Regions from separate parts of the Homo sapiens genome. Here all the other regions are reported to be linked to region 2. Evidence: microRNA targets listed by miRTarBase, many of them from high-throughput screens and not tested one by one. Region 2 holds a microRNA gene; each other region holds the end of a gene's coding sequence.

Evidence for each region. Region 2 holds the annotated microRNA hsa-miR-6795-3p (ACCCCUCGUUUCUUCCCCCAG, at 732-752, shown strand). A microRNA usually pairs through its seed, bases 2 to 8, with sites in the 3' UTR of a target mRNA and lowers its output. Matches are read on the target gene's strand: a 7mer-m8 pairs with bases 2 to 8, a 7mer-A1 pairs with bases 2 to 7 and ends in A, and an 8mer does both.
Region 1: miRTarBase lists RDX as a target of hsa-miR-6795-3p. Seed matches in the 3' UTR shown: 7mer-A1 at 1,815-1,821.
Region 3: the mRNA of TXNL1 is a reported target of hsa-miR-6795-3p. The part of its 3' UTR that is shown has no 7-base or 8-base seed match.

The regions. Positions count from the first base shown.
Region 1 is chr11:110,229,090-110,232,346 of GRCh38, forward strand. It overlaps RDX (radixin), which reads right to left. Exons shown (of 14, transcript NM_002906.4): 14 at 352-2,944. The coding sequence ends at 2,780. Among named protein-coding and RNA genes, the nearest start is that of RDX, 66 kb to the right of the region's middle.
Region 2 is chr19:15,176,780-15,180,034 of GRCh38, reverse strand. It overlaps MIR6795 (microRNA 6795), which reads left to right and starts at 685; the gene lies at 685-752. It overlaps NOTCH3 (notch receptor 3), which reads left to right. Exons shown (of 33, transcript NM_000435.3): 21 at 539-671; 22 at 753-1,010; 23 at 1,094-1,212; 24 at 1,945-2,510. RefSeq lists a silencer at 2,221-2,390.
Region 3 is chr18:56,600,137-56,603,393 of GRCh38, forward strand. TXNL1 (thioredoxin like 1) reads right to left here. Exons shown (of 8, transcript NM_004786.3): 8 at 1-2,920. The coding sequence ends at 2,891. Among named protein-coding and RNA genes, the nearest start is that of TXNL1, 37 kb to the right of the region's middle.

The DNA.
Region 1 (3,257 bases), not on the chromosome of region 2:
TTCTTTAAAGAATGTTGAAATGTTAATAGTGAGATCAATCAATGACAAGAAACTGTATCTTCCTCAGGAAAAAGAAACTAACCACTATACAATAAAGGCAATGACTGGAAACCCTAAATTACGTTTTGTTGTCAACAAAGTCAATTTAATTTAATAATTTAACTTTTCCACAGAATTAATCACTATTACTTCCATACCAAAGAGGTATCGGGGAAAGAGTAGATCTATGAGGATTTAAAATTATTTCCTATCTACTTCTTACTTTTAAGTTGTGGTGATTCATGGCTGTGATAAAGATTGTAATTTTCAAGAAACATACAAAAAATCCATGTTAAATAACAACAGTGGACCTTGAAGGCATGAGCTTTTGTCACTTTATTGTTAACCAATGAATATTATCCAAAATTAGAGATGTAATTGTAACTTAATTGTACAACACAAAATTATGCTAATGGTAAAAGCCTACTGGGATTTACCAAATACTCATTAGTGTATTTTTACATTGACTATATGAACATGTGCTCGCGACTGCTAATAAGTTATAATTGGTTTAATCTCTAAGAAATCCATATTGCAAATGGTTCTTGTTTAGAAAAATTCACACAGCCTTAAAAATGGATTAAATCCATTTTAATCCTAATCTACAAATAGATCATAAACAGCAAAATATAACTGATAATTTTTCAATACTGTATCAAACTGATGTAGCTATGGTAGTGCACATAATTCAAAATGAGGAAAATTAACAAAAATCCAATGAAAGTTCAGGTTTTTATCTATTATGCAATTGCTTTAAAGTGAACATTTATGTCTCAAAACATGAATAGTAGGGTCCACCATCCATTCCTTTGATGTACTGCAAGTAGGAATATTCTCTTCCATAGGATTCTGAAGCATGTGCACAACCATGGTACAACAGTCACTTCAAGGTTAACCAGCTATGTTTTGTCCTACAAAGTTCAAAAAATATATTAAACGCAACCTTTCTTTTACATAATGTCTGCCCAGATTAATCCTTTTAAAGTCAGCAAAATCAAAAAAGCACAAGAGATATTTTCAGACACAACTTGAATCTACTGTGCATGAAAATGTTTAATAAAATGGCAATTTTAATAGATAAATGTAAATTTGACTGTGTAATACCAAATGGAAAGTAGCTGAACCACACAGAGAAAACAAGGCTTTACGTATCTCCAAATTTAGCTGTTTTACAATAAACAAAGTATTAGAACATGTGAATATTAGAACCTCCTTCTAACTGGAAAGATTTCTTCAGTAAGCTATAACCGAAATTAATATAAACTAAAATTATAATTTCTAAAATAAGAATTAACAAACCAAATTTAAGTATTTTTAGTCAGAGATTGAAACAAAATAAGCACAGTGATCTAGAAACCAAATATACTGATTATGTAACTATCGTATCAAGGTACAGACATTCTTCACATGCTACAAGGTTAGCATTTCTCTCTCTCATACACACACAGAGTACACACACACACACACACACACACACACACAGTCTCTCTCTCATTCTCTCTCTCTCTTGCTCAGCCATACAACACCCCTCCAGGATGATAGTATACCAGTGAGGAGCTTACAATTTTAATACAAATCAGAATCCCACAGTTTGACTCGACAAAAAGGCAGTTAAAAATTTAGCACTCTTAAGATATTCTGAAGGAAAATGAAATTTCGAAAGTATTTCTTGATGATCGAGGCTATGGTTATGAATTATAAAACATATACCTTACACACTCCATTGTGTTTGAACAACCAGTCATCACAGATGTAGTAGTGAGGTAGTATTGTTGTCCCCTCCTCGGGACTGATGTTTTTATATGCTGCCCTTCCAGAAAAGGTCCAGGTTTTAAAAAATAACATTAGTTACCAACAAATGTATATTTTCTTTTTTTAACTAATCATTTGTTTTTCTAAATCAGTCTATAAAAGAACAAAACTTTTAAAATCTTGCAGAGGCTGTTTCATCAGTAAACTCTCCTAGGGAGCTACTACTGCTGTCTAAACCTCTGTGAAATGGTAGGCAAAAAAAGCCATCAAAGGATCACAGGAGATAAAACACCAATCAGTGTAAGCTGTTAAAGATGACTGTGATTAAATAACCAAATATCAAATATCCAATAAGGTAATTAAATTTAGATTAAAAAAAAACTAAGCACCAGCTGTACATACATTATTAAATGTTCTAATCTCTTTCCTGATTCATAGCCATATTCTACATGATGATCAAAGACTGTCCACTGTGCTACCTACCATCATTTTAAACACTGCCTGATCTGTATGATGGTGGAATTATGGCTATGGACATGGCAGATAAGAGAAGGGCACACTGAGAAAATGTGAGTGAGAGAGAATGTGGAAATAGGTTAAATATGGAAAGGGCAAGGGAAACCCATTAAAATGTTCACCATTATCCTTTAAAATGTACACAGAACTGAAACCACACATACACATTTGTCAGACGTGATAATTAGTGTTAATCTTCAACAGAAAAAAAAAAGAAAAAGAAAAAAAATGTGAAAAGAGGCAATGGAACACCATTCTCCATTCCCTGGACCAAAAGAAAAAAGAAAACCAAGCATGATATCATACTGCCTTAATGTTGAAGAGCTCCCCTTAAATTTGTCTTTTAGCTAGCACAGTCAAACTGGTGTAAGTGCTTTGGCAAGGTGGGATGCATTCCATCATATCTGCAAAGGCCTGCTTTTCTCTGTTGGTGGTTCAGCTTATGAAGAACATATATGCAAAATAACAGCTCTCACATTGCTTCAAACTCATCGATACGCTGCTTTGTATTGCCTTGTCGAATCTGTCGCAGAGTCTTGTACTTATCACGGCCTGCTTTAACATTCTCAGCATGAAGAACATCATTTTGTGTTTTCTTGGTTTCATCTCTGGCTTGGGCTAATTCTGAACTTAATGCCTATTTAAAAAATAAAAAGTACAACTATTATTTTTTTCTTAGATTTAAAAAAATTTATGAAAATGGCTTTAAGATGCAAAAATACATATACCAAATCATTTCCACTGTGAAACCTTTTTCTTTAGGTATAAGTTTGTTTTAGTAATAGTGGTGGCAGTGGTAAGGGAGGAATACACATGGCCTTTCCACATTTATCAACCATGGTATTTTGTACATTATTCTAAATTTCCTTAACTTTCTAATCTAATACTTGAAATGGCTAAAAAGTTCAATGTAGCCATTACAGACTAATATTACTATGAGATTTAAAATC
Region 2 (3,255 bases):
GGCATGCTTGGGTGCGTCTGGGCACACATTTCTGTGTGGCTTGGTATGGGTATGTCTCTAGATATGTCTGAGTTTTTGCTTTTGTGACTCTTGGTGTATCTGTGGGTGTCACTCTGGGTAGATCTGGGGTGTTTTTTTATTTGTTTGTTTTTTTGAGACAGGTTCTCACTCTGTCACCCAGACGAGTGCAGTGGCGCGATCTCAGCTCACTGCAACCTTTGCCTCCTGGGTTCAGGTGATTCTTCTGCTTCAGCCTCTCATTATAGCTGGGAGTACAGGCACCCACCACCACGCCCAGCTAATTTTTGTATTTTTCATAGTGACAGGGTTTCACCATGTTGGCCAGGCTGGTCTCGAACTCCTGATCTCAGGTGATCTGCCCACCTCGGCCTCCCAAAGTGCTGGGATTACCTACTGGTAGTGCGCTGAACATCTGTGTGTGTCCTTTTGTGCTGGGGTTCTTTGCGTCTTCATGGGTATGTCCAGGTGGGTCTGTGTCCCACTAAGCTGAGTGGGTCCCTCTCTTACCCCACTGAAGTGTCTTCCTGGCTACAATGGTGATAACTGTGAGGACGACGTGGACGAGTGTGCCTCCCAGCCCTGCCAGCACGGGGGTTCATGCATTGACCTCGTGGCCCGCTATCTCTGCTCCTGTCCCCCAGGAACGCTGGGTATGCCAGGGCCAGGGTTGGGGGGACAGGATGAGAGGCTGTCTTCATTCCCTCTTGACCACCCCTCGTTTCTTCCCCCAGGGGTGCTCTGCGAGATTAATGAGGATGACTGCGGCCCAGGCCCACCGCTGGACTCAGGGCCCCGGTGCCTACACAATGGCACCTGCGTGGACCTGGTGGGTGGTTTCCGCTGCACCTGTCCCCCAGGATACACTGGTTTGCGCTGCGAGGCAGACATCAATGAGTGTCGCTCAGGTGCCTGCCACGCGGCACACACCCGGGACTGCCTGCAGGACCCAGGCGGAGGTTTCCGTTGCCTTTGTCATGCTGGCTTCTCAGGTAAGCGTTGGCGAAGGGGCTGGCCTGGGACCCCGCCTGTCATTCCCCCATTGTGGCTGATCTACATGCTCCCGCTCGCTCAGGTCCTCGCTGTCAGACTGTCCTGTCTCCCTGCGAGTCCCAGCCATGCCAGCATGGAGGCCAGTGCCGTCCTAGCCCGGGTCCTGGGGGTGGGCTGACCTTCACCTGTCACTGTGCCCAGGTAGGTGTGGGTGGCGGCCTTTGGAGGAGGAGTAGGGGCGTGGCCTCTGGAGTAGTAGGGGCGTGGCGTCTAGGAGGAGGATGTGGCTTTAGGGGAGACATCGAAGGGAAGGGAGTTTCTGGAAAATGCTGACATTTCCGCCGGGTGTGGTAGCTCACACCTGTAATCCCAGCACATTGGGAGGCCGAGGCGGGAGGATCACTTGAGGCCAGGAGTTAGAGACCAGCCTGGGCAACATGGTGAAACCCCGTCTCTACTAAAAATATAAAAATTAGCCGGGCGTAGTGGCAGCTGCCTGTAATCCCAGCTACTCGGGAGGCTGAGGCAGGAGAATCACTTGAACCCGGGAGGCGGAGGTTGCAGTGAGCCATCACGCCATTGCACTCCAGCCTGGCGACTGAGTGACACTCCGTCTCAAAAAACAAAGAAACAACCCCCTGCCCCGACATTTCCTGGAGGTTTGAAGGGAAAAGGGTGAGGATGGTGATTGGGGGGCGTGGCCTCCTGGGATGGCAGGGCTTATCTGCCAGGTGGGGTCTCCAGTGTGGAAAGGGGAGCGGTTGGGTGGGACATGGGGAGGTTGAGGGGGTCTCAACCTTCCTTAGTCTTGACCTCTTCTCTTCCCCCTCTCTCCCCTTGACTCTTCTTTTCCCCACTCCTCCATTTCTTCTCCTCCTTCCCTCCACTCCCCACCCTCATTTTTATCCCTCCCTCCCCAAACCCGACCCCCAGCCGTTCTGGGGTCCGCGTTGCGAGCGGGTGGCGCGCTCCTGCCGGGAGCTGCAGTGCCCGGTGGGCGTCCCATGCCAGCAGACGCCCCGCGGGCCGCGCTGCGCCTGCCCCCCAGGGTTGTCGGGACCCTCCTGCCGCAGCTTCCCGGGGTCGCCGCCGGGGGCCAGCAACGCCAGCTGCGCGGCCGCCCCCTGTCTCCACGGGGGCTCCTGCCGCCCCGCGCCGCTCGCGCCCTTCTTCCGCTGCGCTTGCGCGCAGGGCTGGACCGGGCCGCGCTGCGAGGCGCCCGCCGCGGCACCCGAGGTCTCGGAGGAGCCGCGGTGCCCGCGCGCCGCCTGCCAGGCCAAGCGCGGGGACCAGCGCTGCGACCGCGAGTGCAACAGCCCAGGCTGCGGCTGGGACGGCGGCGACTGCTCGCTGAGCGTGGGCGACCCCTGGCGGCAATGCGAGGCGCTGCAGTGCTGGCGCCTCTTCAACAACAGCCGCTGCGACCCCGCCTGCAGCTCGCCCGCCTGCCTCTACGACAACTTCGACTGCCACGCCGGTGGCCGCGAGCGCACTTGCAAGTGAGCCCATCCACCCGATCGATCCGTCTGTCTATGCATCCATCCCAGTCTGTTTGTCCGTGGGCCCTGCCTCTCTTTCCACCTGCCCATCCACTTGCCCCGTCTGTTTCTCTGTGCACTCTATCTGCCCATCGGTGTGTCCCACGTGTCTGTCCGTGTGTCTGTTCATCCATGTGCTCTGTCTATCTTGTTCTTGTTTCTATCTGCCTATGCACTTCTCTGCCCCGTTTGTCTGCCCTTTTCTCCATCCAATAATTACTTTTTTTTTTTTTTCCCGAGATGGAGTCTTGCTCTGTGGCCCAGGCTAGAGTGCAGTGGCGCGATCTCGGCTCACTGCAACCTCTGCCTCCCGGGTTTAAGCAGTACTCCTGCCTCAGCCTCTGGAGTAGCTGGGATTACAGGTGTGAGCCACCGTGCCCAGCCGAATTCCTTTTTTTTTTTTTTTTTTTTTTTAAGACGGAGTCTCGCTCTCTTGCCCAGACTGGAGTGCAATGGCTCCATCTTGGCTCACTGCAACCTCCGCCTCCCGGGTTCAAGCGATTCTCCTGCCTCAGCCTTCCGAGTAGCTGGGACTACAGGTACCTGCCACCACGCCTGGCTTTTTTTTTGTATTTTTAGTAGAGACAGGGTTTCACCATATTGGCCAGGCTGCTCACGAACTCCTGACCTTGTGATCCGCCCGCCTTGGCCTCCCAAAGTGCTGGGATTACAGGTGTGAGCCACCGCACCTGGCTCCTTTTTTTTT
Region 3 (3,257 bases), not on the chromosome of region 2:
AAAGCCCATGATCAGGGATATTAATTGCAGCCATAAATAAACTGCTGAGGCCAAATAAACAACTGCATTCCTATAATCGCTGCCAAAAACACTGCATACATCCTCAAACATTGAGACAAAGGATGGCAGACAGGTTTCAACTCTAATTGTTAAGTGGCTGCCTCCAACAGAATATTGAGACTGGGGAACAATGTGGGGCAGGTTTCAACTCTAATTGTTACGTGGCTGCCTCCAACAGAATATTGAGACTGGGGAACAAAGTGGGGCAGGTTTCAACTCTAATTGTTACGTGGCTGCCTCCAACAGAATATTGAGACTGGGGAACAATGTGGGGCAGGTTTCAACTCTAATTGTTACGTGGCTGCCTCCAACAGAATATTGAGACTGGGGAACAACGTGGGGCAGGTTTCAACTCTAATTGTTATGTGGCTGCCTCCAACAGTATATTGAGACTGGGGAACAACGTGGGGCAGGTTTCAACTCTAATTGTTACGTGGCTGCCTCCAACAGTATATTGAGACTGGGGAACAACGTGGGGCAGGTTTCAACTCTAATTGTTACGTGGCTGCCTCCAACAGAATATTGAGACTGGGGAACAACGTGGGGCTTGATGTCAAAGAGAACTCAGAAGGATTATAAAAGCCTGTCGTGGGCACAAGAATGTGGTACCTTGTGCTACTCTTGGCTTCAGCATTAAGCTGACAAAGACTTCCTACTGCAATACCTGACTTTCGTTTCTATTATGAACACGATATTTCACTGTTGTTTCTCATCAAAAGCACCTGATGTCAATGTATCAAAATACAGAGATCATGAAATTCTTTTTTGCTATGTCCGACAAAATGAACAAGAAACTGAATACCAGTTTTCTAGATGCACTAATAAATAACTTCAGTTAAAATAACTAGAGTTACATTTTTTCAAATGCTCTTATTCATCTGGAAAATTCAGTGTTATATATAAATGTTACATATACATATGTGTGTATATATATATACTGTTTTAGGAGAAAACAGCATTTCAGTTTGATATTTTAAATGCCAATTATGCACATTTATAATAGTAAGATTTCCCATTAAGTGAAACGTTATAGTTACCTATAAACGTTCATTTTTCACTATTTACAATTTGAATTATGTAATACTTGCATACTGCAACTAATTGTTATAGAAGAGTCACATAGACAATATAAATCTGATGTCCAATCCTTTACAAATACGAAATTTGTTTCACTGGGTTTTCAAACTATCAAGTATAAATAGGAAAAGGTCAGCAATACTTAGGATGAGGCACTTTAACAATTACTCAGAAAGGTTAAGTGTACAAAACTGTAAACCAAAACCCTGCATATTAATCTTATCCTTAATTTCAGATGTGATTAATCTGAGATGGTCTATTTAAGGAGTGTTAAGATCATCACAGACCAGTTAATGTGCCCATATACAAATGAACTAAACTATCTAATGACACTTGGGTTTCAGAAAGGGACTCTTTCAACACTAAAACTTCTGTAGAATTTTTTCATAAACAAGTATAAACACACTGCTCTCACAAAGGCAAATGGTATCTCTACCATATTCCTAGACAAGAATGCCCTCAAATGTTTAACTGAATCACAATTTTACAGTCTTATGTACTCTTTAAAAATAGTTTTCAAAATACTCAGAAATTTTAAAATTAAAACTACCAATACTTTTTAGATTACAATTTTAAGATAAAAAAGGTAACGAATAGGTATTTTACCAGCCTTTTGTGAAAGACCTTTTAAACATTTCTATTTGAGCACCTCATTTTCAACCTTAAATCATGTTCTCTGTATATTTACACTGCACGTTTTGGTAGTTCAGGTAATAAATACTTGATTAAGGGTAATAATTCCCTTTTTTTTTTGGAGACGGAGTTTTGCTCTTGTCGCTCAGGCTGGGGCGCAATGGCGCAATCTCAGCTCACTGCAACCTCTGCCTCCCGGGTTCAGCCGATTCTTCTGTCTCAGCCTCCCAAGTAGCTGGGATTACAGACACCCGCCACCATGCCTGGCTAATTTTTGTATTTTTAGTAGAGACGAGGTTTCACCATGTTGGCCAAGCTGGACTCGAACTCCTGACCTCTGGTGATTCGCCCGCCTTGGCCTCCCAAAGTACTGGGATTACAGACATTAGCCACCACACCTGGCCAATTCCTGTTTTCTGAATTCACTATGCTGTATTTTTTCCCCAACTGTCTGATTTCCACATTCTTCTATTAGTTAAAAAAAAAAAAAAAAAAAAAAAGGCTGACTCAAATTTTAAAGTTTACCAGAAGAGATTAAAATCTTGATATATACCAAGAAAGAATCTGTGGACCCATTAGCTAAGTTTTAGGTAAGAGTAGCTAAATCTCATTAAACCTGTTTATTTCTTCTAATTTATAATTTGAGTAATTTCCATAGCTCAGATATACAAATGTCCTTTAATAAAAATGCAGTAATAATTTAACATGGTTAGCTGTTCCAGGTTCACTTATCAAAATAACTTGCCATGAATGTGTACACATGTACTTCTTAATTCCCTAGAACAGTTTCTCCTTTTCTAAAGAAACTGGCTTTCAATCAATATACTACCAGACACTTAAGTCTCTACTAAAATCAGAAGTTAACCAGTTTTCAAATACATGGAAAGAGAAAATACTGATTTAGAAAGACAAAAATTAAGCTTGGCAAAAGTGGTGACTTTTATTTACAATTGCATGTGTCAAGATTACAATGGAAACACTAGTGATACCATCTGAACAAAAGCAATGATTTATTGGTAATGGCAATGAATGAAACATTGACAGTCTCTGGCGAGAATCAAGCAATTATCCAGGAGCTGTAGATCTGATTGCAATATGGTTGTCCAGTGTCTTTTGTACCTTAGTGGCTTTCTCCTTTTTTGCCAACTACCTAGAAAAACAAAAATAAGTTTATATGTACATCCTATTGATTTTAAATATGAGTTATTAAAAATACTAATAATCAGTTTAAAACCTTGGTATTAATTTTTATCCTTGGATCTTTTCTGGCATGCAATGTATTTTCACTGTTGAAGCAAACTGTGACCTCCCCTCCAATCCCAGCCACAAGGAATTAAAAATAAAACACATGCAGGCTATTTTTGGTTTCACACAGTTTTTTTTTTTTTTTTAAATAGCAATTTTTAAAAACAAGGTTGAAAGTTTAGAGAAGTTAATTTAAAAAATGATGCTATATGAGTAAAACATATTTGACATACTATTTTTAG